Linked DNA regions of Homo sapiens: all the other regions are linked to region 2. Evidence: fine-mapped expression QTL. A gene starts in region 2. Each other region holds a variant in brackets. All regions are shown on one strand. Distances are between the middles of the regions.

Region 1 (5,071 bases), 62 kb after region 2:
GAGTGGGGTGGGCAGTGGGCCTGGAGGAGGGCTTGGCCGACCAGGAGATTCCAGGAGAGGATGGAAGGCTTGCGGGACGCAGTGCATGAGTGACATGAAGTCATGCACCTACTGAGCCCATGTTCTGAACGGAGCTAAAACCCGTGCACTGGGAACGGACCTAGTTTAGCTCCCTCAGCTCTGGGTATAGGAAAAGACGGAAGCCCACAGAGCTAACAAGACCAGTGGCAGGCGTGAGATAAGAACACTGCACCCTGACAGGCGCCCTTTGCCTGCACAATCCTCGCTGCTCCTTAAGCCTTTCTACACGTAGGCAATGTTGTCTATTTTGCAGATGAGGAAACCGAGGCTGAGAGGTTAACTAAATTGCCTAAATCCACACAGCTGTGAACAGATGAGCAGAAATTAGAACCCAGACGTGGCTGGGGCGGGCTGGGGCTGGGGAGGGTGGTGACCTATGGCCCCCTGCCACCCTGGGCAGCATGATCAGGGCCTTGCCCATACCTTGTAGGATTCCTTCCTGCCCTGATTTCGGCTTCTGCCCTCTCTCCGCACTCTCCCTGCCCCACACTCAGCTCCTCCAAGCCCCGCTGTCTGTGTCTGAAACTCCTCTGCCCTGATTCTGGGCTCCCACAGGGTCTGGTGTGCTGGAAGTCCAGTTTCTCAGCTGTAGGATAACCTCAGAAAGGATGTCATGGCCAACGAGGAAGATGCTTTCTCTTGGCTTTTCCTAAACAGGCAGACAGGGGAGTTCTGGCCACTCAAAAAGAATCACTACCTGTGGTCCCATCGCTATCCCAAATGTGTGGCCTCCCCGCTCCCCTCACAAGCCACAGCACCAGGGACTTTGAGAGATCTCAGTTCAAATCCCAGCTCTGGCCGGGTGTGGTGGCTCACGCCTGTAATCCCAGCACTTTGGGAGGCCAAGACGGGCAGATCACCTGAGGTCAGGAGCTCGAGACCAGCCTGGCCAACATGGCGAAACTCCATCTCTACTAAAAATACAATAATTAGCCAGGCATGGTGACGGGTACCTGTAATCCCAGCTACTATGGAGGCTGAAGCAGGAGAATCTCTTGAATCTGGGAGATGGAGGTTGCAGTGAGCTGAGATCTCCCCACTGCACTCCAGCCTGGGCCACAGAGTGAGACTCTGTCACCAAAAAAAAAAAAAAAAAAAATCCCAGCTCTGCCACTTTCTATCTGGGTGACCTCGGGTGAATGAATCCCTCTGAGCCTCAGATTTCAGGAAATGGGGACAAAAGCAGCACCTGTTTCTTATGGTTGCTAAGAATTAAATAAGCAATTGAATGTGAATGTGCCCCGCCTCAGCAGCTCCGCAAACACCTATTAAATCTGAAGGCGATGATGACTGCCTCTGTTATTACAGCAAAAAAAAAAAAAGAACTTTGTAGGACAAATCAGAAACCAAACTGTTTTCTGAAAAACAAAAAAAACATTTATTTCTGTAAACTGTCTGAGTGCAGAGATGTTCTTTACAATCCCAATACAGTACAGATTTCTTCCCCAAAACGAAATGAGCAAGGAAAAACAGAAAAAGAGCTATATCAAATGTGCTCATGAAGAACCAAGCCAATCTCACCTTTCTTTAAAAACAAAACAAAACGATCCTTTTGAATGTGTGGTGCAGACGCAGGACTGAAGCCACAGGCTTTTGGGGTGCTGTGAGCCCAGGGCTTTGCTCAGCTCACAGCTAGCGCGGCGGGCAGAGCAACCCTTCGGCCCAAGCCATCCTCGCAGCTTACACAGAAGCTTCCTGAACCTAAGGGATCCGTTCCCAGCTCTCCTTAAATTCCCAGTCCCCACCCTGGGCCTCTCTCCCTAACGATCTTGTCGCTTTGGGAGCCCCTGAAGTGAACCCTGAAATACTCCCTCCGTCAACTCTGGGCTCAGACCTTTGCCCTTCTCTGTGTCACAAGGAAATTTCGGTCAAGAGGGTGGGAACAGGTGGTTTCAGACCGTGCAGCAAAGCCACTGCCAGGTAAGTTTTAAGGCAAATTTTATCTCTTCTTATTCAGTCTGAGCCGGACCTAACCTTCTCACCACCGAGCAATCCTGCCTATGCTGGACATGCATCTTAGGCAACTCCGGATGGAGGTGGGATGAGGGAGCCCGGGGCAGATACCAGGAGGTCTGGGCCTTAGTAGGGAATGGACGTGTGTGCTTATGAAGGCTGCAGGCACCGGGCACAGCTCCTGGCCCAGCTGCCCCTCAGTGGTACACAGGAAGCAGGGTCCAGGAAAACTGAGATGGCAAAATAGGCCCGGGCTCTGGAAAGCAACGTGAGGTCATGCAGATCTCACTAGGCAGACCTCGTCGCGTGGAAGAGAAATGCCAGGAAAAGGGGTCACTGCAGGAGGCACCTCGGATCTGATGGCAGGCAGGACCTTGCATCAAAATGACTTTTCTTTAGAACAAAAAAGAGGGGGAGAAAAGAAAAAGAAGATCAAAGAAAGAGGTTCCATGAGCGTCATGAGATAGGACACGGCAGGGTTCTAAGGGAAGCGGGAAGGTGGGGGCTGTGGACACAGGGTGGCGGGCGCTGCCTCTCATGGCTTCTTTTCTCCCTGGTGGGCTGGTGGGCTAGTAGCTGAGGCCGGCGGTCCTCTCCCCCGGGGAGCAGGCAGATGACTTTGGCAAGGGGTGGTGTGGCGGGGGCTGGGGTTACTCCGTCTGGGCGTCGTAATTGGCTCCCCCCGCCTTCTTCAGCTCGCTCTTGATGAAATCTTCCTCCAGCTCCTTCCGATCACTGATCACAAACTCCTTAGCGAAATTCTGCAAGAACAAAGGAAAACACAGCGTTCCTAT[T/C]AAGAAGGAAGGCACAGGATGTGAGGGTGGCTCAGGCAACACACTGGGAAGCAAAGCACTGAAAACCCTGATGAGAGATGGAAATGGAAATTCAGCAGCAGAGTCAGTCAATGGAAATTCAGCAGCAGAGTCAATGGAAATTGAACAGCAGAGTCATCTGGCAGAAAAAACCTGACTGGGAGGAGGGAGTGGGGCAGATCTGATGCTGCGTCTTCCCATGTCCGTGGGGATGGCCCGAGGAAGCTGGGGCTTGAATTTGGGCTGTTACCTTGGCCAAGTCCCTTCAATTCTCTGTGCCTCAACTTTCTCATCTGTAAAAAACTATCTCGTCAGGAAAATAATAGGTTACGAGGTTGGAAAGGCTCACGGGTGTGCAGGCACTCCAAAAAAAAGAAAAGGACAAAAGCTCAGATTGGTGTCTTTTGCCCATATCCATGATGTAAATAGTCCCCCAGTGGCTGACGTCAAGCTATCAAAGTGATGTCACCATACGTGGAGGTGGAAGGAGACAGGCGTAATTGGCTCTCGCCAGCTGGGACAAGCAAGCTTCAGCCACCAATGTTCCTAATGACGCAGGAGCCTCCAGTCCTGGGTCTGCCATGGGCTCTCCACCCGCACTGAGTTACACGAGGGTAGAGGCTCTGCCTTCTTTCAACAAATACCACGCCAGGCTGTGGGGCTACAGGGCTCAGCAAAATGGATGCAGTCAGTCTTTCCTCTTGCAGTACACAGGTTTCACCCATAGAACCCGCAGGCACCCATGATGCACTCAGTAAACGCTTGTGGCATGAATGAGGGAACCAGGTGACCTGGCTTATCAGACACCCTTAAGCCATGATGATACACAGTTACTGCCATATGTGGATCATAAGACTTTAACAAACAAAATTTCAGAACGATGACGGACAGCTTGACAAAAAAAAGCTATCAAAACCACAAATAACACGTCTAAAGGTAAGAAAATCATCCACATTAAAAAAAAAAGCCCATAAGGAAATAACATAAACAATGACCACCATTTTTCTTTTTCTTGAGAGAAAAGCCTGTTGCCCAGGCTGGAGTGCAGTGGCGCAATCTTGGCTCACAGCAACCTCTGCCCCCAGGGTTCAAGCCATTCTCATGTCTCAGCCTCCCAAGTAGCTCGAACTACAGGCGTCTGCCACCACACCCAGCTATTTTTTGTATTTTTAGTAGAAGCAGGGTTTCGCCACATTGGCCAGGCTGGTCTCAAACTCCTGGCCTTAAGTGATCCGCCCAGCTTGGCCTCCCAAGGTGTTGGCACTACAGGCGTGAGCCACCACGCCCGGCTAACCACAATTATTAAGCACTTATGTGTACCAGCACAGTGCCACAGTACTGAGAATGACACACAGTAGTAAATATGAATCATGGAAGGTGGAAGCAACCCCTATGTCCATCAACAGAGGAGTGGATTATCAAAACACGGTCCGTCCACACAATGGAATATTCCTCAGCCACAGAGAGGAATGAAGCGCTGCCACACGCAACTACATGGATGAACCTCGGAAACAGGATGCTGAGTGAAAGAAGCCAGGCATGAAGACCATGTACTGTCAGCTGCCATTGGTATAAATGTCTAAAAAAGGCAAACCCATACAGACAGAAAGCAGACTCGTGGTTACACAGAGCTGGAGATGGGAACAGGAAATGATAGAGACGTTCTAAAATTGGGATTGTGGTAATGGGTGCACAACTCCACAAATTCACGAAAAAGTACTGAAAAAGTACACTTAGGATGACTTGATTTTGAGGTACATACATCATACCTCAATCAAGTTCTTTTTAAAAAGGCCCGTAAGGTGATCAACATTATTTCCATTTTAAAGGTGAGGAAACAAAGGCTGGAAATTACAATGCTTGTCCGAAGTCAGACAACCAGAAGGTCCAGTTGATGCCAAAGCTGGCGTCTTGAAAGAGCCACCATCTCCTTTTGGGGTGATGAAAAAGTTTTGGAACCAGACAGAGGTAGGGCTTGCACAACACTGTGAATGTTCTGAAAGCCACTGAATTGTACACTTTAAAATGGTTCAGGCCAGGTGCGGTGGCTCACGCCCGTCATCCCAGCACTTTGGAGGCCGAGGCAGGCAGATCACCTGAGGTCAGGAGTTCGAGACCAGCCTGGCCAACATGGCGGAACCCCATCTCTACTAAAACTACAAAAATCAGCCGGGCGTGGTGGCGGGCGCCTGCAATCCCAGCTACTGGGGAGGCTGAGGCAGGAG
Region 2 (5,059 bases):
GAGAAAACCTGGCTTCTGAGGATGTAGGGCAGCGGAACAAAATGGAAGCGGAACTTGATACAAGGGAACCCACAGAAGTCTCGAGGCCAATGTAGGGTTGTGTTATGCACAGCTTTGCAGAGAAGAGGCCACCCCATGTACCCAGGTGTACTGTGAAAGTCCCATGACACCGAGAAAACTTGCCAGGGACTGAAAGCTTTCCATCATCAAGCCTATAATCCCAGAACTTTGGGAGGATCATTTGAGGCCAGGAGTTTGAGACCAGCCTGGGCAACATAGTGAGACTTCGTCTCTGCCAAAAATACAAACCTCAGCCGGGTGTGGTGGCGTGTGACTATAGTTCCAGCTATTCAGGAGGCTGAGGTGGGAAGATCGCTTGAACCAGGAGGCAGAGGTCGCAGTGAGCCAAGATCACAACAGTGCACTCCAGCCTGGGTGACAGAGCAAGACTCTGTCTCATAAAAACACAAACAAAAGTTCCAGCAGCCCATAATAAGTGACCAAGATGTTTTGCTTGACCAGACTTTAGTCAGGCTCCTGGGCCCATCTGTGTACCTCTTTGTAAAATCTGGTTTTAGCAAAACAAAAAACAAACAAACAAAAAAACCCACAAAACCACTCATCCTTGATATTTGATCACCATTATCTGTTCACTTGCTATCTAACCAGGTTTAATGCTTAGGTTAGGGATATCCAATCTTTCAGTTTCCCTGGGCCACACTGGAAGAACTGTCTTGGGCCACACATAAAACCCACTAACAATAACTGATAAGTGCATATATCTACATATATGGTAAAAAAAAAATCTCATGTTTTAAGAAAGCTTATGAATTTGTGTTGGATGTCATTCAAAGCCGCCTTAGGCCACATATGGCCCACGGGTTGGACGAGCTTGCCCTAGGTGATGTCTGATCACCCTGGCCTGCCTTCAGTAACAAACTGCTAGGTAAGCTTACCCAGAATCCACCCTAGCGCCCTGATGTTTCCTCAGTCATCTTCCATCCACTGATCCCCACCCTGCTTCCTGGCTTCCCACTTGCCCATGCTATAATCAGAGTTGAGCCCAATCTCTCTCCTTTACTACAAAATCCCATTGCTGTGGTCCCTATACCCATTGCAATGGTCTTCAATAATTAATGTGCTTTTAATAAGCATCATTAATTAATTTCTTTAACATAAGGTTGAGAAGATTAAATAAGGTAACCCAGGGCATTTGATCTGCTTACTGGAGGTCAGAGACAGAATAATGGGCCCAAGACAACAGAGAATGGCTCCTTGGGATCTTGTCTTAGAACAAGAGAAACTGCCCTGCTTGGAAGAAACGGAAGGTTGCTCTGCCTCCGTGATGGAGGGGTGGACAGGGACCGATTGTCTGCAGGATGGCCCCCAAGGTTCCCACTAGTATCCTAGGAATGGCTTAGTCACCTCCTGCTCAGAGCTTCTCCAACAGGCTGTTACATGGCTGCTTCCCACCCTGGCTGCCAAGCTCCAACTCTCTACTCCAAGGGCCCCGCATCCCTAGAGCCACACAAGGGTCCCTCCGTACCCCCACAAGCTGGGGAGATTCCAACTGCCTCATCTGGACAGGCTTCGAAGTCCTGTCTGTGTCTCAGAGCCCAGAGGCCCTTGTGCGAAGGGGCAGCTTGAGCCTGGGCAAGAAGTTCCTGTGGGCCAGAAGGTGACCTGTCCTGTGCTGGCCACCTACATGGCCTGGGAACAGTTATCAGCTCACTGTCCTGGAAAAGCCCAGATGGGTGTGGTCAGAATACAAGAAGGAAAACCCCCTCCACACACACTTCAGTGTCTACCCCAGACTCGCCTCCTCCGTGGAGGCACCCCTCCCTTTCCGCGTCTACACAGGCTCTGAATCCCCCTTCAACACGGCTGGCCTTGGCCCTGGGGGAAGCACCTCGCCACCCTCTTACCTTGACCACATAAACAGCGGGAGGTGCAGGATGATTCTGATCCCCCCCAGGAGACCCTCCCTCCATCCCGCCCCGCTGTCCCCACCCCTCACCTCCCCGCAGCCTTCACCTCTCCCTCCCCCGACCCGAGGGCCTGAAGAGGCGTGGGAGGCCAGGGAGGGGCAGGGCCCAGGCCTACTCTGGACCCGTCTGCTCCAGTCCCCCGACTCAGCTGGGCCTGCGCCTCTGGGTCAGCTCACTGCGAACCTCAGCCCAGGTACCTACCCTGCCGGGCTTCCTGGTGCTGTCCGGTCCGGTCCAGCAGCCCACGGGCTCCTCTCGAGAGCCGCCCCTTCCCTGTTGCCAGGCAACATTGCTGAGGGGCAGTCATTTGGTCCAATCGTGGAAGCGGAGGTGTGGGGCGGAACCCAAGAGAGGAGTCAGCCAATGGTGACGCGCCTCACAGGGAGTGAGCCGAACCCGGTGGGTGCGGCTCGGGGCGGGGCCGCGGTCTGCGGGAGGAGCGGCTGCAGGCCCGGGAATCCGGCCCGGCTGCGTGCGTACCAAGGAGGCGCCTGGAGAGGGCGGCCAATGACTCAGGCCAGGCCAGGCCAGCAGTGGTACCTGGGGAGAAGGGGTGTCTGGGCTGGGCGCTGGAGCGGAGTAGCCAGGGTGTGGGAGATCCTGGGGGAGAGGCTGAGCTTGGGGGTGAAGACACCCGGGGGAGGAGAGTGGCCCATGTGGAGCCCATGCAGAGGCCTCTGCAGTGCAGCCTCCTGGGCCCCAGGCAACTCTCCCCTGACTCCCCGGCCTGCTGGTCCTGGCCTAGAGCCTCGGGTCCGCCTCCCCTCGGGCCTCCCTCTGCCAGCTGCCCCTGCCTCGCTCTTCCCTGGCACCAGGTCCTTCCCGGCAGCCATCAGGCGCCAGCTCCACAGCCTGGCTAAACAGACTCCCTCCACCCCACGTGCGCCTCTTCAGCCGGTTCCCGTTCACTCCAAGACGTCTGAACCTGTCACCCCACTTCTTCAGCTCGTTCCTTCTCAAACCCACCGAAACCTGGTCCCGGGGGCCTGCTCACTACATCCGAGGTGCGCTTTGGGTCCTCGCAGGCAGCATTTGGCGCTTGGTGATCGTGCTCTCATCAGACCTCTCTCTTGGGCACCCCGGCGCCCATTCCTGGCCCTGGCTCGCTCGCTGTCCCTGGTGGTCTTCCCTGGGCCCTTCTGGCTTCTGCCCTGGAGTTTCTCGACTTCTCCCTACTCTCTCCACCCCACGCATCCTCCCTGGGGTCCACCTTCCTGCAGATTCAGCTCCCGCATGTCCATGGTACCAGTTCTCTCCCCTGCACGGCCTGCTGGTTTTCCAGCCTGGAAAACCGTGACTTCGCCCGCCAACGTCCGCTTGAGTTGGTCTCGAACTCCTGACCTCAGGTGATCTGCCTGCCTCGGCCTCCCACAGTGCTAGAATTGTAGGGGTTAGCCACTGCACCCGGCTGGTCACCTCTTATTCTTTAAGCTGGAACAAAAATAGAAGGCTTTCTGCCTGAGGGCAGCAGGCCTGGCTGGTGACAGTGCACAAGGTAGGGCCCCTCACCAAGACATTGCTCTGAGATCCAAGGCCAATGTCCCAGGAGAAGCAGCTCCACAAACTAACGCATCTACAGCCAGGGTACCCCCAGCTGTGGATGCCAATGACACGAGTAGCCCCAGCTCTTCACCTCGGCTTCTTAGAGTAGGTGCCTGTCACCTGCAGCCAGGGCTCCTGATGCCCAAGACACACGGGCCTTTAGACATGAAGGACTAGACCCTGTTTCCAGCCTTCACACCCCTGTACTTCCTGCACACATCAACCAGGTGTGTCTTTTTCAGTGCCATCCGAGGTAGTGGCATTTTTGACATAGCAACAGTTTTTTGTAGGCTGAGGCACACCAAGGGTGGACAGCAATGGTGGCCTCTCAGGTGCAGGTACTGGGGGGTCCGCAGGAGCAAACCGGAGCCGATGTGTCAGCCTGGGCAACATAGTGAGACTCCATCTCTACAAAAAATGAAAAGCTTGGCCGGGCGTGGTATGGCACACCCGTAGTCCCAGCTACTCAGGGAGCCGAGGCAGGAGGATCGCTTGAGCCTCAGAGGGCGAGACTGCAGTGAGCCGTGATTGCACCACTGCACTCCAGCCTGGGCAGGAAAGTGAGATCTTGTTATTAAAACGGTGAAACAAAATCCCCCAGAAAACCACAGAAGCAAATGCGGAGCGGCGCCGTTTGAGAGCTACCGAAGTGGCGCCACCTCGTGGCCATACCCTCCAGAAACAGCCTACACTCCAATCTGCCCACCTGCCTGGTTGGAAAGTTTCTGTTTTTGATGGAGTTTCACTCTTGTTGCCCAGGCTGGAGTGCAATGGCGCAATCTCGGCTCACTGCAGCCTCCACCTCCCAGGTTCAAGCAATTCTCCTGCCTCAGCCTCCCGAGTAGCTGGGATTACAGGCATAGGCCACCACACCCAGTTAATTTTTATATTTTTAGTAGAGACGGGGTTTCACCACGTTGGCCAGGCTGGTCTCGAACTCCTGACCTTAGGTAATCCACCCACCTCGGCCTCCCAAAATGCTGGGATTACAGGCATGAGCCACCGCCCCTGGTATTCTCAATTTTTTTAAATAAGAGATTTATATTGCTTGACATTTTGCATATAAAGTGAGACTCTTTTAAAAATATACATCATGCTATTTCAACAAGCTGGTGCTCCCGGGGATGTCCATGGGCTGTCCAACTGCCCCCGGGGCACCAGCTTCTGTTTTTTATGCTGACTTTGGGCACTGAACTCTCCTTGGCTCCCAGAGGTCCTGACCAGGCTGGTCCTGCCATCCACAGCGGTGCCTCTGCTAGCGACATCCCTGCCCAATTTTCCATGTCCAGCTTTGACACCTCCACAGAAAGGCTGAGCCACCACCGGGCCCCCATTGTGGCTGAGCATCCACTCTCTCTTCCCCATGTGCTCCTTGCCCCCGACTCCCCATCTCTGGAACCCAAGTTTGGGCTGCATGGACCACCTTCTGGGCCAGGCTGTTAGGAGGCCACCACCAAGCAGCAAACGCAGGAGCAGCCGTGCCCTGAGGAGGCACCACCAGCAGCCTCCAGCAGCACTCGGTGAGGCGG
Region 3 (5,071 bases), 250 kb before region 2:
ACTCGGTTTTATTGCTGGAAATATCTCATAATTTGCTTTCACACCTTTTAAGAGCTATTTTCTCGAGACATACTCGGCTTTTATGAAGATTTTGAAAATCTAGGGCAGTGATTTTCCTTAGAGGGGAGCAAGAAGGTCACCAGGAAAGTCTGCTGTCCTCCCGTGGATCCTCATTTTTCTAGAGTAAGTATTTAATCAGGCAAGATTGAGAAGCTAAAAGCAATAGAATAATTGACCTAATTTTTTTTAAGTGCAGAAGTTTTGTTCTTTGCCTGAACACAAACATATTTCTTATTCTAAAAGGATTTTTAAAAATTTGTTTTGCTGTCAGCAAAAATTTAGGCTTTTGCACATAACACTTTTGCTAGCTAAGTAAATAGGAAGGACAGACAAGACTATCCACTGTATATTTAGTCTGAATGAGCAAAAAGTGGTGGAGAGGTCGGGGTTACGGTCTCCTTATCCCAGTAAAACTAGGAGACTGAGACCCTCCAGCAGTGTTATGCTGTGGGAACAGGGCTGGCCTGGATCTAAGGAGTTAGGGTTAAGCCAGAGCTGGAAGTTTGTCAGTTATACACCTGGTGTAAGAGCTAGCATGGAAGGAACATACAATAAGTGATGAAGGGATGGATGGATGATGAACAGATAGATGGACGGATGGTTAATGGATTGATGGATGAATAGACAGACGATGAACGGATGGATGGATGATGGATGGATGGATGGACGGATAGATGGATGAATGAACAGACGTTCGAATGGGTAGATCTCTTTCCACTGTCCTAGGCTGCCTGAAGGTCTTGAGTCTTGGATCTTCTTGTGAGCTATCAATTGCCTGCTCGATAATGAAATACCAGTTGAGACAAATTGGCCATGAGAGACATTTTTGGGTAAATTGAGATCATTTGAATTTGGTCTGGGTATTAGATGAGGTGAAATCTTACTGGAATGAGAAGATGAAATTTATTGACCAAAAAAAGCAAGCACAGAATGTTGTGTAATCTTGTTTGGGTTGAAAAACTACGTATACGTATAAATCCAAATGCTGGCTCTCACAAAACACTATCAAAATGAGCTCCCGAGAAGACAAAGTGGAGTGTTCTGCTAGACTGCATCACCTTTTTCCCCCCGTGGATCTCTGCTCATGCTGTTCCCACTGCTTGGAACGTCATTTCCTTCCCACCCTCCACCTTCCCCAGTTCCTACTCATCCTCCCGTGTGCAGCTTCACTGTCTCTCCCTCAGGGAGTCTCCCCCGCTCTCTAGGTTAGAAAACCATATGCACGCTCTTGGCTCTCATTAGATCGTAATTTTTTAAATGTTTGAAAATGTTTGTAGCTAGCACAACACAACACATTCCCTGAATGTGTGCAGTAGGCATTCAAAAATGTATTTCTAGGTTAATTATGTAAAAAGAAATGTTATGGAATGTGTTGTTTTTTCCTCCTCCCTTCCACAGGATCCTGGCGTGTTCCAAAAAGAGAATATTTGCTAATTTGACAAAATGCTGGAAGATATAGAAATTTTTTTTTTTTTTTTTTTTTTAGACAGTGTCTCACTCTGTCGCCCAGGCTGGAGTGCAGTGATGCGATCTTGGCTCACTGTACCCTCTGCCTCCCGAGTTCAAGAGATTCTCGTGCCTCAGCCTCCTAGTAGCTGGGACTACAGGTGCCCACCATCACGCCTGGCTAATTTTTGTATTTTTTGGTAGAGATGGGGTTTCAGCATGTTGGCCAGGCTGGTGTCAGATTCCTGGCCCCAAGTGATCTACCCACCTCAGCCTTCCAAAGTTCTGGGATTATAGTCATGAGCCACTGTGCTTGGCCTGGAAGAGATAGAAATTCTTTTAGCAATGTAATACCAAGAGCTGGGTTAAGAGGAGCCCCATCTAGCAGTAATGCGGTTGGAAGGTGGTGTTGGTGAACTCCCTGTGAGAGGGGAAGCCAGCTGGACTTCCTGGGTCGATTGGAGACTTGGAGAACTTTTCTGTCTTACAAGAGTTTGTAAAATGCACCAATCAGTGCTCTGTAAAAACACACCAATCTGCGCTCTGTAGCTAGCTAGAGGTTTGTAAAATGGACCAATCAGCACCCTGTAAAATGGACCAATCAACACCCTGTAAAATGGACCAATCAGCACTCTGTAAAATGGACCAATCAGTGGGACATGGGTGGGGACAAATAAGGGAATAAGAGCTGGCCTCCCCCAGCCAGGAACGGCAACCCGCTTGGGTCGTCTTGCTTTGTTCTTTCCCTCTTAACAATAAATCCTGCTGCTGTTCACTCTGGGTCCGTGCCACCTTTAAGAGCTATAATACTCACCGCGAAGGTCCGCGATTTCATTCTTGACGTCAGTGAGACCACGAACCCACCAGAAGGAACCAACTCGGACACACCTACAGATGGGAAGCCCCTCCCTTTGGTCCACACAGACCCAGAAGGACTGAGAAATGGAGAACCCTTGGGGTAGGGAAGGAGGTCAAGGGTCCTTGAAGAGGAGAAGAGAGAGGGGGTCTGAAAGGGAGAAGTCATGGTG[G/C]CTTGTGACACAGAACTGAGAGCTTTCAGGGGAAGGACCTTGACAGTTTCAGAAGAGTTGAATGACGGAACTTTCTAGACCCCCACACCCTCCAAACCCCTGGGCACTAGATTGGAGACTATGACTAAAATCCAAAAGAAAGGACTCTTTTTGTTTATTTTTTTTACATTCCAGGTAGGGCTTGCCTAGCTAAAAATGAGAGCATTTATTACTGACCCACCATCTCTTTCTTGGGAATAGGGTGGTAGGTTATAGAAAACAAGATTTATTTTTCTTCCAGATAACTTCCATATTTTCTCAATGTTCTTATATGTGTATGTGTAGATCCAAATGCCGGCTCTCCAAAAATACTACGACAATGAAAACGGAGTGGAGTGTTTCGCTCTGTCGCCCCATCTTCCCTCCTCCGGTCTGTGCACCCACTGCATGAGCACGTGGTGTTGTCTTAGATAATTTGAGCTGCTGTAACAGAGTACCACAGACTGGGTAGCTTATAAACAACAGAAACGTATTTCTCATGGTTTTAGAGAGGCTGGAAGTCTGAGATCAGGGAACCCGCCACCGTGGTTGGGTTCCGGTGAAGGCCAGCTTTCAGGCAACAGACTGCCAACTTCGTGTTTCAACCTCACCTGAGGGAAGAGGGCAAGAGGGCTCTCTGGGGTCCCTTTTATGAGGGCACTAATCCCTTTCATGAGTGTTCCATCCCTCTGACCTCATTACCTCCCCAAAACCCTTCATCCTACTACCACCCAACTGGGGGTTAGGGTTAGAACATATAAATGAAGATGGGGAGAAATACAAGCATTCAGTCCATAACCAATGGTTTGAATATTTGTACAAAATTTATGTCTACAGAAGATACTCGAATACACACGCTTATCTCAAACAATCCCTGTTTCCATCTTGTCATGCATATTTCCAGACCCATAGAGTAGTAAATGGTTGAGAGCTGATGGCATCCTTTCCATCTTAACCTCAGGGAGCCCTCCCAGCAACTTTGAGATAGAGACGCTTTATAGTATCTTTTTACAGATGAGAAAACAGAAGCTCAGAGAGGTCAAGCAACTTGTCCAAGGTCACACAGCAGTGAGGAGAATGTGAGTGAGATTTGAGCACCGGCATTCTAAGTCCACACTCTTAAATACTCTACTGGACTGCTCCCTCTTTATAAACCTAGCAAAATTAAAATGCAAGTATATTTTTGTGATTTAAAGGTGAATTTATTATTTGTTTTTTTCATTTTTTTGTATGTGAATTTTTCTCTCTCTTTTTTTTTTTTTTTTGAGACGCAGTCTCACTCTGTCACACAGGCTGGAGTGCAGTGGTGTGATCTCGGCTCACCGCAACCTCTGCCTCACCAGTTCAAGCGATTCTCCTGCCTTAGCCTCTTGAGTAGCTGGGACTACAGGAACCTGCCACCCCACCCAGCTAATTTTTGTATTTTTAGTAGAGAGACACGGTTTCACCATGTTGCCCCGGATGGTCTTGAACTCCTGACCTCAGGTGATCTGCCCGCCTCGGCCTCCCAAAGTGCTGGTATTACAGGCGTGAGCCACTGCACCTGGCCAAATTTATTTTTTTTAATAAGGAAAGGAGAGGATGGTGGCCTGCTGACAGGTGCAGAGGTGCCTGATGATTTGTGTTTCCTAACTGGCTTATACCATGTGACTAAGAAGGTGGCAGAAGTGATGCCACCTGTCCACGGGAGTTTTCTGGTACATCCTGGGAACTGGTCTTTTATGATCATGGCAGAAAACACAGCTCTGGTAGATTCAAAAGACCCCTATGTCCAGTGTATGCTCAAAGTATGGAACTAAGCATACCTGTGGTCCTGGGAAGTCCAGATGGCCATCTCTTCCAGGGATCCTGCTCTCTCTGGCATACCAGGCAGTCTTTTATCAGCTTTGTGTCCATGTCAGAGTACACCTCACCAGGCACTCCTTTGCTCCTGGTTGCCATCTCAGCCCTGGTGCATCTTGTGGCCCTTGCAACGATGAAGCATGACGATGTTGCAGGGTGCCCTTGGGCAGGACCCTCTCTGGTGGCCAGGAATGCGAGTGGTGAAGACGGGAGCTTTGTGGTAAGGTGTGCATGTGCTGTGGCTCTGCTGCAGGAGAGGAAGAGAAGCCGTTCAGCCCCACGCCCAGCCCCTTGCAGACCGCGTCCAAGCAAGTTCTGAGCTCTGGCTCCGGCAGCTCGTAATGCAAAGGGGCCACACTCGCATCCCTCGACTCCGGGACCCCCAGCGTCTAGCCTGTCCTCCCTGTGTCATGTGGAACTCCTTTTCAGAGAGGCAGCAGCCCATTCGACACCTTCCAATTCTATTTTCCAAGCTGTGAGCGCATAACCACCAGCCACTGTTTGTCTCTCATAGGAATTTAATTGCTTTTGGTTGCACCGCCTCACTAAGATTGTAGGCATTCAGGCTTTCAAGATTAGAATATGAAGAGAAATTAATTATTTAAGGACATGCATTTGAACTTGAGATAGACTAAACCTAGATGAAAAACCTGGAGGTCCGAATTGTCAAATCTTGG
Region 4 (5,071 bases), 36 kb after region 2:
GGTTCTGTGCTGTTGGAAGTTCGAGTCACGCTTACTGTTGAGGGTGACTCAATAGGGGGCATGAAGTGGGGCTTGGGGGCTGACACTAGTGTGTTATTGACCTGAATGCCATTGCATGGTTGTGCTTAGTGTGTGAGTGTTCTTGGAGCTGTACACTTCAGACGTGTGCACTTCTCTGTATATACTGTATCTCAATAAAAAATAAAAGTTGCTTCTCAGAATGGGGGCTTAAAAAATAAAAATAAGGCCGGGCGTGGTGGCTCATATCTGTAATCCCAGCACTTTGGGAGGCCAAGGCAGGCGGATCACCTGAGGTCAGGAGTTCAAGACCAGCATGGCTAACATGATGAAACCCCATCTCTACTAAAAATACAAAAATTAGCCGGGTGTGGTGGCACATGCCTGTAATCCCAGCTACTCATGAGGCTGAGGCAGGAAAATCACTTGAACCTGGGAGGTGGAGATTGCAGTGAGCCGACATCACGCCACTGCACTCCAACCTAGGCAACAAAGCTAGACTCCATCTCAAATAAATAAATAAATAAATAATACAAATCAAAAAGTAAAAGTAAAAGATAAATAAATAAACCTTTCTAGAGGGCTCACTGTGAGAAGCCTTAGGGAGGTTAAGGAGCTGACTCTGCCCCTCCTCAGTGCAACTCTTCCTTCCAGTCCTTGGTTTCCTTTGACTGCAGCTCCCTGACAGTAGATGTGATTCTGCGACACTCAGAATACCTCCTGGAGTACAGAGGTACGAGAGTGAACCAGTAGGCTCGACGCCCTAACGTACGGTGCCTGGATGTCCTTTTTGAATCTGTTGATGGTTTCTGTTTAGGTTCTGTTAACATTGGATGAGCACCCAATGTGCCAGGTCCTGGGGACACAAGGATGAGGAAGTCCCTGCCCTCAAAGAGCTCAGGATCTGGAGAGAAAGGACCCCTCAATTAGAGTCCAGTGTGTTAAATGCCCCCCAGGGAGACTCGGGAGGATGAGGGAGGCTGGGAAGATTCTACAGGCCCAGGGAGAGAGGCCAGTGGAGAATGAGGGGTGAGGGGAACTCCCAGTGGCTCAGGACCCACTAGGCCTCAATGTGCGATGGGCATCAAGAGGCTGAACTTGCTGGCATCAGGGGTCCTGCCAACACTCCTCAGAATCTCTGATTTACAGTATCGGGGTAGTCACATGAGAACGAAGCTCAGCTACAAGTGCACACTACAGCATTGTTTAAAACAGTGACAAAATGGAAAGCAAGCTACGTTTCCAAAGATGGAAGATTAACCCAAAGAATGATAGAGGGGCCAAATGAGGGGACTCTGGTAGAACCTGGAAGTGATGCTGGGGAAGACTGTTTCATGATTCTCAAGGCCCATGGATGAGCTGGGATTTGACCCTCTGTGAAAGCCCCCAGGTGAGCCTGCTGCAGTGCCATGGTTGCTGGCAGAAGACACGAGCCTCCTGGGTCAGAGACAAGTGACTTTATTACTCGCAGCACAGCAAGTAGCATGAGCTTTATGTTTGCATCGGTTTCCCTTGTCCCCAAGTCCCACAGGGGCCATGCAAAGGGGCCCGGAAGGGGTGGGTGTTGCGCACACAGCACATTTCTCACAGCTGAGGATCCCTGAGCTCAGGGAGCCCAAATTTCTTATAAGAAATCCTGATCCTTGCCCTGGGGGCAAACATCTATCTATATTGGACAGAAAACAAATTTGCCCTTTGATCTGAGGGGACACACTGTCTCTGTCTAACAAAGTTGTTTGCTATATAAACATCCTTGTAAAGATAGTTCTTCTACTTGCAAGACATGTAGAAACCTGAGAGACCCATGGAGAACTGTCTCCCAACAATGACACAGAAAGAAAATTTAGGCCGGGCATGGTGGCTCACGCCTGTAATCCTAGCACTTTGGCAGGCTGAGGCGGCTAGATAACCTGAGGTCAGGAGTTCGAGACTAGCTTGGCCAACAAGGCGAAACCCTGTCTCTACTAAAAATACAAAAATTAGCCAGGCATCATGGCATGCACCCAGCTACTTGGGAGGCTGAGGTGTAGTCCCAGCTACTTGGGAGGCTGAGGCAGGAGAATCACTTGAACCCAGGAGCCGGAGGTTGCAGTGAGCTGAAATTGCTCTACTGCACACCAGCCTGGGTGACACAGCAAGACTCCATCTCAAAAAAAAAGAAAAGAAAAGAAAAAATTTAGAGTCGCCAAGAAACAGATAACAAAACAGTATACATGTGTGAATCTGCACATTTGGTGTCTGCATGTGCATATTAC[G/A]TAGGCACTAATACAAGCCCAGCAGAATATTCCCACAAATGTTCACAGGGGTTCTTGCTGGGCTTTCGTTCTATGATGAACAAAATAGTGACCATTGTACCTAGTAATCAATAGCCAACCCTTGCTATATGTTTGTAACATTCCAACCCCTGTTCTGAGCACATTACAGGTATCACCTCATTTAATCCTCATGACAAGCTGTGAGTCAGGAGCTGTTTATCATCTCCATTTTCAAGATGAAGCAAACCGAGGCCTGGAGTGGTCACTCAGTGGGGATTGAGTAGAGTTAGGATTCTGAATCCAAGTAGTGTGGCTGCAGGCTCCATCCTTTTTTTTTTTTTTTAGACAGGGTCTCATCGTTGCCGAGGCTGGAGTGCAGTGGTGTGATCTCAGCTCGCTGCAACCTCCGCCTCCTGGGCTCAAGCGATTCTCCCACCTCAGCCTCCTGAGTAGCTGGGACCACAGGCGCACACCACCACACCTGGCTAATTTTTGTAATTTTTGTAAGATGGGCTTTTGCCATGTTGGCCAGGCTGATCTTGAACTCCTGACCTCAAGTGATCTGCCTGCCTCGGCCTCCCAAAGTGCTGGGATTACAGGCATGAGCCACTGTGTCCAGCTTCATCCTCTTAAAACCACATTCCTTATGCCTTGAATAAAGCCTTATTATTATAGCAGAAAACGCCCTCTTTCCAGCAGCCTTTTATTTATAGATTTAATAAGTCTAAAATAGAAAGACAGGAATTGTTTTCTCTACTCAGAAAATTAAGTGAATCGAAAACCGACCGTAGTGGAATATGACGACTGTGTAATAACAGGCAAATGCAAAAATGATCACATCAAATGGCAGTTTATATAATTTATATGAAGCAATATTGCAAATTTATTTTAAAATACATATGCACAGGAAAAAAGCACTAGAACAAGATATACGAAGCTATGACTGTGTTTGCTTTAGGGGGCTGAACTCTTGGTGAATTTATTTTCTTTACTCCATTTTCTGAATTTTTCATAATGCAGTTATAGTTCTTTTATAATGAAAACAGTTATAAAAATGTAAAAAACAAAATGAAACAATGAAACAGATCTTGGGCTAGTAGAGAAAGCGAAGTCTAATCTAGACTAAAGGCTGTAAATTGGCCACTAGCAGGTCTGACTTGCCTGAAGAATGTTTTGCTTGGCTGAGTCTTTGTTGTTTAAAAAAATATATGCATTAGCCTCTGTCACTGTAAAGTCAGGAGATTTCAGATAAAACTCCATCTTTCCCTGGACGCTTGTATTCCTATGACCCAGCAAGTCCACTCCTAGGATATACGCAATAGAAATGTACACACCAAAAGCCTAGAATGTCCTAGAATGTTCATAGCAGCTCTCTTCATAATAGCTTCAAATAAGAAACCACCCCAATACTCATCACAGTGGAATGGGTGAATAAATAGGGGTGTAAATTTGTGAAAATCATGTATTGGTTGATGTCTTCTGTCTCCCCAAAACATATACAACCAACCATGAAAAACTGTGCAAAAGTTGAGAAAGAATGATTTACAACTAAACCCTAAATTTGTATGGAGTTCAGACACGACGGGGAGGGAAAGCAGCCAGACAAAAAGTCCACCCTGTGTGTAAAACATTAACACAAACCAGCAAAGCCAAGCTCAGGTGTTAGGTCCAGGCAGCGGTCAGCTCGGGATGAGGGTGGGGGCTGTAGCCTCAACTTCCCAGGCTCAAGCCATCCTCCCACCTCAGCCTCCTGAGTAGCTGGGACTCCAGGCCTGCACCACTATGCCCAGCTAATTTTTAATCTTTTTTTTTTTTTTTTTTTGAGACAGAGTTTTGCTTTTGTTGCCCAGGCTGGAATGCAATGGTGCAATCTTGGCTCACTGCAATCTCCTCCTCCCGGGTTCAGGCGATTCTCCTGCCTCAGCTTCCCGAGTAGCTGGGACTACAGGCATGCACCACCATGCCCAGCTAATTTTGTATTTTTAGTAGAGACAGGGCTTTGCCATGTCGGCCAGGCTGGTCTCCAACTTCTGCTCCTGACCTCAGGTGATCTGCCCGCCTTGGCCTCCCAAAGTGCTGGGATTACAGGCGTGAGCCACCGCGCCCAGCCTTTAAATTTTTTTTTACAGTGATAGGGGTCTCATTATGTTGCCCAGGCTTGTCTCAAACTCCCGGGCTCAAGTGATCCTCTTGCCTCAGCCTCCAAAAGTGCAGGGATTGCAGTCGTGAGCCACTGCACCCAGCCCATATTTTTTTAAGTCAACCTACTGTGTGATTTTTTTTTCTGCCTTTCTCAGCATAACTCTAAGCAATAATGTCCACGAAGTCAGGGTTTCAGTGAGCTATAGAGTTCAGCAGTCAACAACACAGACAGTGGATCCAGAATGTCTAGGTTTAAAGCCTGCATCCTCTACAGTTGTGTGACTTTGGGCAAGTTACTTAAACTTCTTGGTCCTCAGTTTTCCCATCTGTAGAATGGGAATAATAATAATACCACATATCACAGGGTGGCCGAAAGGATTAAATGAGTGAATTATGTAGAGTTCTTAGAACAGCTGTGGGCATGCAGTGGTGTGCTGGTAACTGTTTAACAATGGCTTGGAAGGAAGGCCTTTACTGATTTCCAATTTCCCTGGTGTAAACACTTCCATTGTGGCTGATTTCAGGCTACCAATGAGAGGTCACTAAAGGTGGTTTTGGTAAAGGGGCCACTAGGTCATCCCAGGGTTGAAATAAGCAACTCTGTGACCACAGCCCAGATGTGCGTTTTGGAACAAAACCTAAGGAACCGTGGACAA
Region 5 (5,071 bases), 20 kb after region 2:
CAAAGTGCTGGATTACAGGCGTGAGCCACCACGTCCAGCGGATTTTCCAATTTTTAACCAGCATCTGGGTGACATTGATATATGTAGACCAGGAAACACCCAGGAAGAAGCACTAATCTAAGACCTCACTGCTCAGAGGGTGATCCGGGACCAGCAGCACCGGCGTCGCTAGACAGCCTGTTAGGAAGGCAGCCTCCGGCCGCCAGGACCTACTGAATCGGAATCCGCATTTTAACAAGATCCTGGGAGACTCGTGTGCACCTTAAAGCTGACTAGGCGCTGCCCAAGGATGTCCCTGACCCAGGCTTGGAGGTGATGAGGGGACCCTTGGCGCTCTTGGGTATGGGCACTCCCAGCCCTCCATCTGCCTAGCCCCTTCTTCGGGGACCGGTATTGGAGCTCAAGCTCCAGGGCTAGAGCTTGATTTCTTCTGGAATAGATCTTGTATTTGTTTCCTGTAGCTGCTGTAACAAAGTATCACCAACTGGGTGCCTGAAAGCAACAAAGTCTTTTGTGTCACAGTTCAGGAGGCCAGAAGTCCAAAACGAGGCATCCACAGGGCTGGTTCCTTCTGAGCACTGTGAGGAAGAATCTGACCAGCCTTTCCGCTGCTTCACCTCAGGGGGTTGCCTGCAGTCCCAGGCTTGTGGCCACATTGCTCCAATCGCTGCCTCCAGCTTCACGTGGCCTTCTCTGTGTCCATCTCTTCTTCTTTTCTGCTTCTTCTGTTTTGGTTGGGTTTTTGTGGGTTTTTTTGAGACAGGATCTCACTCTGTCACCCAGGCTAGAATGCAGTGGTACGATCACAGCTCACTGAAGCCTCAACCTCCTGGGCTCAGGTGATTCTCCCACCTCAGCCTTCTGAGTAGCTGGGACCACAGGTGCCCCAACGCACCTGGCTAATTTTTTTTTTTTTTTTTCACTTTTAGTAGAGACAAGGTCTCACTTTGCTGCCCAGGCTGGTCTCAAACTCCTGGGCTCAAGTGATCCTCCTGCCTCTGCCTCCCAAAGTGCTGGGATTATAGGCGTGAGACACTGCACCCAGCCCTCTTCTGCCTCTTAGAAGGACACTAGTCATTGGATTTAGGACCCACCCCTAATCTAGGATGATCTCATCTGCAAAGACCCTCTGTCTAAATAAGGCCACAGGTGCAGGGCTTAGGACTGGACATGTCCACCATTCAACTCATGACAGGCCTACTCTGCGGCTCACACCTGTGAGTATTCAAGTCACTGTTCTCCAGGCAGTTTTACATCTGTTTGGTCTCTTTTCTTCTCCGGAAGGAAGAAAGGTTGTGTCCTCCTTTAAAGAGATTTCAGCCCTCTGCCAGTTGGCAGGGAGGCTGTGTGCATTCCCATGACTGGCTGACAACCCCGGTGACAGCTTTTTACACTCACCAGGAAACAGAGGGCAGAAAGGGGCAGCTAGGGGGCTGGAGCTCAGCAGCTCCCGCCTCGAAAGGATACCATGTGGGCACCACAGCCGGATGGCCCACAGAATGGGGGGAGCATCCTTTGGCCTTCAGACACAGCCCTACCCGCAGTCCTGCAGATTTCACGGACTAATCTGGGGCACCAACACCCAGGGGAGGCCACCAGGAAATGATCTGGCCCTGAATAAAAGAACGTTTGGCCGGGCACGGTGGCTCACGCCTGTAATCCCAGCACTTTGGGAGGCCGAGGCGGGCGGATCACAAAGTCAGGAGATCGAGACCATCCTGGCTAATACGGTGAAACCCTGTCTCTACTGAAGGTACAAAAAAATTAGCCGGGCGTGGTGGCGGCCGCCTGTAGTCCCAGCTACTCGGGAGGCTGAGACAGAATGGTGTGAAGCCGGGAGGTGGAGCTTGCAGTGAGCTGAGTTTGCGCCATGGCACTCCAGCCTGGGCAACAGAGCAAGACTCCATTTCAAAAAAAAAAAAAAAAAAAAAAAAAAAGAACGTTCATCTGGCTGTGCTTTTTGAAACCTCTAACACCTGACGCTAAGGGACCTGGGGGTTGGGTTGATGAGACCCACAGAATGGGAGGGTCCATGGCCCTGGTGAGCAGGCTTCAGGCAGCCTCAGAGCTCGCCTGAGCTGAGACACACACATGGATGCACAGACTTTGATAGCGCACGCTGTCGACCGCAGCCAACAGCTAGTTGAGTCAAAAGATCAGACCTCCTGTTGCTCTTGTTGTGGCCAGCAGCCCTGAGCCCCGCTGCCCTGCTGCCAGGATCTCGTGGGATGCTTAGACAAGCCCGGCTGCCAGGGCTGCTCCCAGACCGGCTGAGTGGCAAGCTCTGGGAGATGGGGTGCAGGCACCGGGGGTTCCAATGACCAGCAGCACCAAGAACCACTGGTATGTAACTATAATCTGTTGTCACACCGGCGGGAGCTTTGGGAAGACATGGGGCCTTGTGGCACCAAAGGGCAGCTTTAGGAACCTGCAGGTCTAGGTGGTTCCCATGTGGCAGCCTGTTTGAAACAGTGTTGAAAGTGCTTCCATCCTATGGGTCCCCCTGCAGCCCTCAGCCTGGGACCCCCTCCTCACCTTACCCCAGCTCCAATAACAGAATCCATCCCTCTTTTTGGGCTACTGTGTCTGTGTTCTTGGGTTTGTGGTGGCCATGGGGGTGCACGGCTCAGATCTCCCTGCAAGACAGAATCTGGTGGTGTCCCGGCTCCCAGCCAATGTGAGACAGGGCATGGCTCCTAGAGCCCGGCCACTCCGCCCCCTCCACTCAGTCCTCTCCTAGAGCCCGGCCACTCCGCCCCCTCCACTCAGTCCTCTCCTAGAGCCCGGCCACTCCGCCCCCTCCACTCAGTCCTCTCCTAGAGCCCGGCCACTCCGCCCCCTCCACTCAGTCCTCTCCTAGAGCCCGGCCACTCCGCCCCCTCC[G/A]CTCAGTCCTCTTTATTCTGGGCTCCCCGACTTTCTCATTGCTGCTCTGCAGGCTGAGGCTCTTCCCCGCTCCCAAACTGCCATCCTCCCTCCCCCTCCGCTCTGTCAGTGTCAGACACGTCCCACGGCTGAAGCCCTTCAGCACCCACTCCTCTCCCCAGTTCCTCGACCCACATGGGCATTACATCCAGTACATTGCTGGCACATCTAACTCCCACTCGGGATTCGAATCTGTTTCCCATGAGACTGGAACTGGCAAAGAGTGGTTTCTAGCTCAGAACTCATAATGTGTGCTTGCCCCCAAATCTAGGAATGGGATTCCAAAGACATGTAACAAGCGTCCTCGGTGCTCACACGTGGCCCCAGAGGCCCACGCCAAGCAGCAGCCTGCCCAGCGTGGGCCTCCAACACCTCTTCCTCACCCCTGCATGACCTCCTCTTCCGTGGATCTTTCCACGGCACTCTCCCTGATGTCAACATAAGCTGCTACCTGATCAGAGCCACCAGGATCCCAGACCTGCCAAACCGTTCATCCATTCACCAGCCCTACTTGGAAGCTCAGAGGACATGGAGACGTGTTAACTTTTAATTTTTTAATTTTTTAATTTTTTTTGGAGACACGGTCTTGCTCTGTTACGCAGGCTGGGGTGCGGCAGCACCATCACGACTCACTGCGGCCTCAACCTCCTGGGCTCAAGCGATCCTCCTGCCTCAGCCTCCTGGGTAGTTGGTTCTACAGGTGCACGCCACCACACGGCTAATGTTGTTGTTGTTGTTTTGGTTTCGTTTTTTAGAAACAGGGTTCTGGCCAGGTGTGATAGCTCAGGCCTGTAATCCCAGCACTTTGGGAGGCCAAGGTGGTGGATCACCTGAGGTCAGAAGTTCGAGACCAGCCTGACCAACATGGTGAAACCCTGTCTTTACTAAAAACTACAAAAAATTAGCCATGTGTGGTGGCGGGCACCTATAATCCCAGCTACTCGGGAGGCTGAAGCAGGAGAATCACTTGAACCCGGGAGGCAGAGGTTGCAGTGAGCCAAGATTGCGCCACTACACTCCAGCCTGGGCAGCAGAGCGAGACTCCAAGTCAAAAAAAAAAAAAAAGAAGAAAAAGAAAGAAAGAAACAGGGTCCCACTTTGTTACCCAGGCTGGTCTTGAACTGGGCTCAAGTGATCCTCCCACATCTACCTCCCAAAGTGTTGGGATTACAGGTGTGTGCCACCATGCTGGCCTGTTTGTTAATATTTTTGTCCCTGCCCCAAGGACACCAGCGTAATGGTTAAGATACTTTACCCTCACAACTCACTTTCTGCATTACTACTAAGCATCCCTTGGTTGTGGAAATGAAGGTCCAGGGAACGGGTGGCCATTTGCTCAGAAGAACCTAAGAGGGGAGCTTTCAGAGCCCCTGCCTCCAGAAACTGCCTCGAAGGCTCTCTGACCCCATCTCTTCTCCCTGAGCCTATCCTTGAAAATCACAACAGCCGCAAGTGATCAGGCCTCCCACCGCAGCCCTGTGTGCAGGGCAGTGTCTCCGCTCCAGACTGGAGGAGGGGTGTTTCCTTCTGCTCTTCCATCTCCTTCCTGCAGCCACGTGGACCCCGCCTCTGCTGCTGCCTTTTGTCTGGCAGCACCAGCCGGGCTAACGGTCTAAGCAGATTTCGTGCAAATCCCCGTCAGAAAGCACAAATCCACCCGGTCAGCACAACCAGGCAAGGGCTCCCCCTGCACACACGACAAGGAAGGGGGACCTTTCTCCCGCTCAGGAGAGTCATGTGATGCCTCGGGAAGGGGCAAACGGGTCCAAGCCTCAGCACACACCCACAGTGGAGGCCACAGCCTCGGAGAGCCCCGGGCGGACTGTTTTCTTTGTTAGGACTTAGAGTTCCCAAAGTCCTTCCAGTCCCTCTGCCAATCCCACTGTGGAGATGACAATTCCAGCCGCTCGTCAGCCCACAAGCTGGAAAACAGGAAAAGACGGTGGCTATTATTTTTGAGACTATGTTATTAATGACTCCGAGGGCTTTCCAATGGTGGCAGGCGGCCACGCTCACGGAAGCAGGGTGAGTCCTGGGATGTTTGATGTGCCCGTGTGAATCTTGGATGACGTGGTTAGAAGGAAGAGAAAAGACTCTCAGATTGAGCTACTTGCTGCTTTTGAGTCAGTATTTCTTTGAATGCTCAGAG
Region 6 (5,064 bases), 40 kb before region 2:
GTCACTCAAGAGTAGTAGGGTCTGGGGCCCAAGGGGCACCGGCATCCCAGGCGTCGGGCTGGAGGCTCAGAGCACGTGCAGGGAGGAAGGAGGGAGCAAGGCCTGTACTCAGCCTGGGAGGTACCCCAGCTGGGGAGCCTGGACTTGACCCTGGGGCCAGTAATGTGACTTAGAGATCTGGTCACCTGAAGGCAGGGAGCTGGGCTGTCTTCCAGTTTTGGCTGAAAGGGACATGATTCAGTCACCGTGGTTTTCCAAGGGCACACGCCCTGGTGTGGAGCCCAGGGGACTCCCCGACATTGTCAGCCAAGCGAGTGTGGCACCTTTCTCTGAAGCTGCGGTTATGGCAGGCATGGGGCAAGGGGAGGGAGCCAGGGACAAGTCATCGACCCCACCCTTTTCCCCAGTGTGCTGAGAGCCAACCCCAACCCGGAATAGAGGACGAGGGAGGCCAGTGAGGCAGCCCCCATGGGCCCACCGCCTCCCCGCCGGCAGGGCCCAGAGTGGGTCATGGCTCAGATCTGGAGGGTCATGGGATTATGCATCAGACCTGAGGCTGCAGTGACAACGGTCCTATGACCTCCAGGCAAGACTGGGATGGTCAACTCTGCCTTGTCCTCCAAAAAGCAGTGTCAGTGTGGGTCACCAGTGAATGCCCTGTAGGAACAGACAAGAGGACCCCCCAAAACACTCTGCTCACTGGCTGTTTCCACCCGCCGGGAAGGAAGTCGGCTTCCCACGCCTGAAGGGGTTGTGCTTGGGCAGCCCGTACATCAGGAATCATCAACAGGGAGCCAGGGATGGTTCCTCAAAACAGCATGTGACAGGAGCAGAGGGAGACGCTGGGAATTCATCCCAGGGAACATGTCGCTGGGAATTCATCCCAGGGAACATGTCGGGGTGCACTGGACAGGGAGCCCAGACTGGTCACTCAGGACATTTGCAAGCAGCAGGGCACTGGGACAGCTGCTGTAGGGAAAGGAAACTCATTCCCCTTCCAGCCCGAGTCCATAACATGCTCCCAGCTGCCTGCCAGACCCACCCTGTGCTCTGGAGCTGCCTGGTGTTTGCCTGGAACCACAGGCAGGCCCTTCTGGAACTGCAGCATTTTGGATTCTGGGTTAGGAAGATCTCCCTGCCTTCAGGGGAATGAAAAGGGCTGGTCCTCCGCACCTCTCACTTTATCAGGAGGACTGGCAGGGAAGGCGCTTCCTGCCGGCGCAACAGAGCTGCAGCCCGTCCTGAATCTTTTCTGTTTTCTCCCTTGGCAGATTTGCTGTTTTTAACTGGATTGGCCTCATCCGTCTTCATTTTGTCAGAGCTCCTCAAACTATGTGAAAAATACTGTTGCAGCCCCAAGAGAGTCCAGATGCACCCTGAAGATGTGTAGTGGACCGCACTCCGCGGCACCTTCCCTAATCATCTCGATCTGGTTGTGACTGTGGCCCCTGCCGTGTCTCCTCGTCAGGGGAGACTTTTAGGAGGCCGCAGCCTTCCATCACCGGATCAGTTTTTCCTCTTAGGAAAGCTGCAGGAACCTCGTGGGCTCCAGGGACCCAGGCCCACATCCATCCAGCGTTCCCGCTGGCTGTGGGACAGACAGGGAGGGGCCTGTACAGAAACACCACACTGTTTATTAAATCACAATGATTTTTATTAACCATGTCTAACTACGTATCTGTGCCACAGCTTGCAGTGAGGCAGGCCACTCGTGGCAGATACAAGGGGCTCCTGAGAGGCAGTGGGTAGGATGGTCACACTCTGCCCATTGCCCTCCTGGAGGCCCCATTTCCTCATCATAAAATGAGGGACTTTTAAATAAAGTGCTATGCCGGGGGATAATTATTTTGATGTGTTTACCTAGGGTTTTTCATACAAGGGGCCAGGTTGGAAACCCACAGCCATGTGTTAATGGCCACGTGGGGTGAGCAGCAATCCATCATGAATGGCCTACAGGAAGGCCTCGGCTTTTGGACATAAAGAGTAGGGCTGGGCATGGTGGCTCACGCCTGTAATCCCAGCACTTTGCAAGGCCAAGGCAGGCAGATCACTTGAGGCCAGCCTGGCCAACACAGCAAAACCCTGTCTGTCTCTACTAAAAGTTTAAAAAAAAAAAAAAAAACAGTTGCCAGGCGTGATGATGCACACCTGTTAATCCCAGCTACTCGGGAGGCTGAGGCAGGAGAATGGCTTGAGTCCAGGAGGTGGAGATTGTACCACTGCACTGCAGCATGGGCAACAAAGCAAGAGTCTCTCTCAGAAAGTGGCCCTTCTCTCCGGAACCAGGAACTGTAGTATCTCCTGCTGCCTGCAGACAAGCTTGATTTCCCACTGCCCCAAAGACTTCCAAAAACCGATCTGCTCTTCCACGTGACAGATGGCAGAGGAGAGAGGTCTCCATGCTGTTCTTCTGCCTGAAGCCACGCCAGAACCACCAAAGGGAACCAGAAGGGGAACTCCGTCCCCATCTCTCAGGAAATAAGGCCAGAGCTAGAACCCCCCATTTACTAGTCAGGCCTCACTAGAGAAACAGAACCAACAGGATGGAGGGAGATGCAGAGATTTGTTTTAAGGAACTGGCTCATAGGAT[G/T]TTGGGGGCTGGCAAGTCTAACATCTTGAGGGCAGGCCAGCATCCTGGAGACCCAGGGAAGAGCTGGGGATGCAGGCTGGAGGCAGAATTTCCTCCTCCTCAAGGGAGTTCAGCCTTTTCCTCTTATAGTCCTCAACTGATCGGATGAGGCCCACTCACGTTATGAAGGATAAACTGTTTGTTTTACTTCAAGTCTACGGGCTTACATGTTAGTTACACAGCGCCATCTAGACCAGTGTTTGTTTGACGAAAATCAACTTGGCCTGGCCAAGTTGTCAGATAAAAGTACCCGTTGCACCCAGCCACGGTAGCTATGAAAAGGGCTACCAGGGGTGGTAACAGCTGGGTCAGACGAAGATAAGGAAGGTCAGAGTGGACCCCTGCCAGGGTTCCAGGCAGAGTCCAAAGTCCTCCATAGTAGGATTCACAGCCTGGGAAGAAGCCCCTCTCTGGCTACAACCTGTGACACCAGGGCCACAGGAGGAGATGCAGCGATGGGCCATTCCTAGTGAGACACAGACACAGGGCTGGCTGGAGAAGAAACCTTTTGAGCTGTGGGGCTGTCTTCCTAGAAGCTGCCAACCCCTGGAACCACTAAGAGGTCAAGGCTGAAGTGTGCCACTTCCACAGTCTGCTAAGGAGTGCCTCCCCCTGAGTCAGGGACAATTCTTGCTCTACTTTTCAGGATCCTTGGGCACACTGCTGGCCCGAGACATTTACTTCCCATTTAAAATTAAGTAATCAAAATACCAGGGTCGATTACTCTGAACTCTTGCTTATGTAAACTTTAGGGATAAAACTGTAGTAAGACACAAAATGCTAACAATAAAATATAAATTAGACTACATTAAAACTAAGACCTTCTTTTCATTAAGGACACAGTAGACTTGAACACCACCATTAAGCAACTTAGCTTGATTTACACTTGTAGAACACCCCATTCACGAGTAGCATAGAAACAGTCACCAAAATAAAGAGCAGAAATCAAACGAAAAAGCAAAAATAGAGGAAAATCAATCAAAACCTAGTTTTTCGAAGAGATCAATAAAACTATCAGTCTTGCAATAAGCTTATCAAAGAAAAAAGGGAAGAGAAATGACCAATGTCAGGAATGAAAAAGTATATCACCACAAACCCTTCAAGATATTCCAACAATAATAATAAATAATACTATGTACATCTTTATGTACCTAAATTCAATCAATTGGATGAAATAAACCAATTGCTTGAAAACCAAAAACTACCAAAACTCACTGAAGATTAAATAGATAAGCTGAAGTTGAAACCCTTCCAAAAAAGGCAGTTTCTGAAGCCAGATGATTTCACTGGTGAATTTTACTAAACTTGTAAAGAAATGGCAATTCGATACACTGAATTCCAAAAATAAAAGGGGACCGAGCACTTCTCATTTTATAAGGTCAACAATCACTCTGATACCAAAACTAGAGAAAAATACTAGAGACCAACATCCCTTATGAATATATGCACGAAAATCCTCAACAAAATATGAGGAAATCAGATCTAGCCAGGTACGAAGAATATAAGACACCAGGACGAAGTGGGGTTAATTGAGGAATGGAATTCAAGCATTCCAAAGTTCAACATTCAAAACCAATATAACTGAAAAGTTCAACATTCAAAAACCAATATAACTCACTATATTAATAGTCTGAAGAAGGAAAAACACATGGTTATATCAATTAATGCAGAAAAGGCATTTGATAAAATTCAATCTCCATTTGTAATAAAAACTCTCAAACTAGGAATTGAAGGAAACTTCTTCAACCTGATAAAGAACATCTACAAAAAACCTATAGCTAACATCATACTTAATGATGAAAAACTGAATTCTTTCCCCACAGGATAAGGTCCAAGGGTGACCAGCCTCACCACTCCTATTCAGCACAGTATTAGAAGTCCTAGCCAGTGTAATATGGCAAGAAAAGTTAAAAGGCATTAGCAAAGAGCCTGGAAAGGAGAAAATCACAGATAACGTAATTGTCCACACAGAAAATCCCAACAAATCTTTTTAAAAAAGAAAAACCCTCGTAGAATCAACGAGTTTAGTAAAGCCACAAGATACAAGGTTAACACACAAAAAGCAGTCGTATTTCTATATATTAGCAATGAACAACTGGAAACTGAAATTTAAAATTGAATACTATTTGTCTGTCTCAAAAAAAAGTATCAATTCTCCCGAGATTGTTGTATTAGGTTTAACACAATTACCATCAAAATCCCAGGGTTTTTTTGTTTTTGTTTTTTTTTAAGACACAGATAAACTTGTTCTAACAAGCTTGGTATGATATTGTTATCAGCAGACCTATTTCAATTTCACTGGTTTTTACATAGTATCTGATGTTAGGCAAACCTGAGTTTAAGGGCACAGTGCTCCAGGTGGCTGGCCAAGTCTGCCCAGGCCTTCTGATACTGACTGCAGGTCCAAGAGTTTCCCACAACCACCTTCAGGTTGG

Evidence for each region. PIP is the estimated chance that this variant, and not a neighbour inherited with it, causes the effect.
Region 1: its variant is fine-mapped to the expression of MEAK7 in whole blood (TOPMed, PIP above 0.99). The same link has a PIP of 0.9 or more in neutrophils.
Region 3: its variant is fine-mapped to the expression of MEAK7 in cerebellar hemisphere (GTEx, PIP 0.98).
Region 4: its variant is fine-mapped to the expression of MEAK7 in whole blood (TOPMed, PIP above 0.99).
Region 5: its variant is fine-mapped to the expression of MEAK7 in whole blood (INTERVAL, PIP 0.98).
Region 6: its variant is fine-mapped to the expression of MEAK7 in tibial nerve (GTEx, PIP 0.98).

What each region holds. Positions count from the first base shown.
Region 1 is chr16:84,564,161-84,569,231 of GRCh38, forward strand. COTL1 (coactosin like F-actin binding protein 1) reads right to left here. Exons shown (of 4, transcript NM_021149.5): 4 at 1,436-2,795. The coding sequence ends at 2,685. Among named protein-coding and RNA genes, the nearest start is that of COTL1, 51 kb to the right of the region's middle. The variant T/C (reference allele first, on the strand shown) is at 2,829.
Region 2 is chr16:84,502,412-84,507,470 of GRCh38, forward strand. MEAK7 (MTOR associated protein MEAK7) reads right to left here and starts at 2,248. Exons shown (of 8, transcript NM_020947.4): 1 at 2,190-2,248. It overlaps LOC124903736 (a long non-coding RNA gene), which reads left to right and starts at 2,391. Exons shown (of 2, transcript XR_007065149.1): 1 at 2,391-2,524; 2 at 4,935-5,059. RefSeq lists enhancers at 1,658-2,158, 2,279-3,226, 2,589-2,708, 4,836-5,059 and silencers at 1,989-2,038, 4,224-4,343, 4,327-4,563.
Region 3 is chr16:84,256,292-84,261,362 of GRCh38, forward strand. No RefSeq gene overlaps it. Among named protein-coding and RNA genes, the nearest start is that of KCNG4, 19 kb to the left of the region's middle. The variant G/C (reference allele first, on the strand shown) is at 2,535.
Region 4 is chr16:84,538,732-84,543,802 of GRCh38, forward strand. No RefSeq gene overlaps it. Among named protein-coding and RNA genes, the nearest start is that of MEAK7, 37 kb to the left of the region's middle. RefSeq lists a silencer at 2,332-2,626. The variant G/A (reference allele first, on the strand shown) is at 2,274.
Region 5 is chr16:84,522,419-84,527,489 of GRCh38, forward strand. No RefSeq gene overlaps it. Among named protein-coding and RNA genes, the nearest start is that of MEAK7, 20 kb to the left of the region's middle. RefSeq lists enhancers at 1,562-2,145, 2,146-2,730. The variant G/A (reference allele first, on the strand shown) is at 2,884.
Region 6 is chr16:84,462,343-84,467,406 of GRCh38, forward strand. ATP2C2 (ATPase secretory pathway Ca2+ transporting 2) reads left to right here. Exons shown (of 27, transcript NM_014861.4): 27 at 1,272-1,845. The coding sequence ends at 1,390. It overlaps ATP2C2-AS1 (ATP2C2 antisense RNA 1), which reads right to left and starts at 5,019. Exons shown (of 3, transcript NR_146503.1): 1 at 4,962-5,019; 2 at 1-657. The variant G/T (reference allele first, on the strand shown) is at 2,591.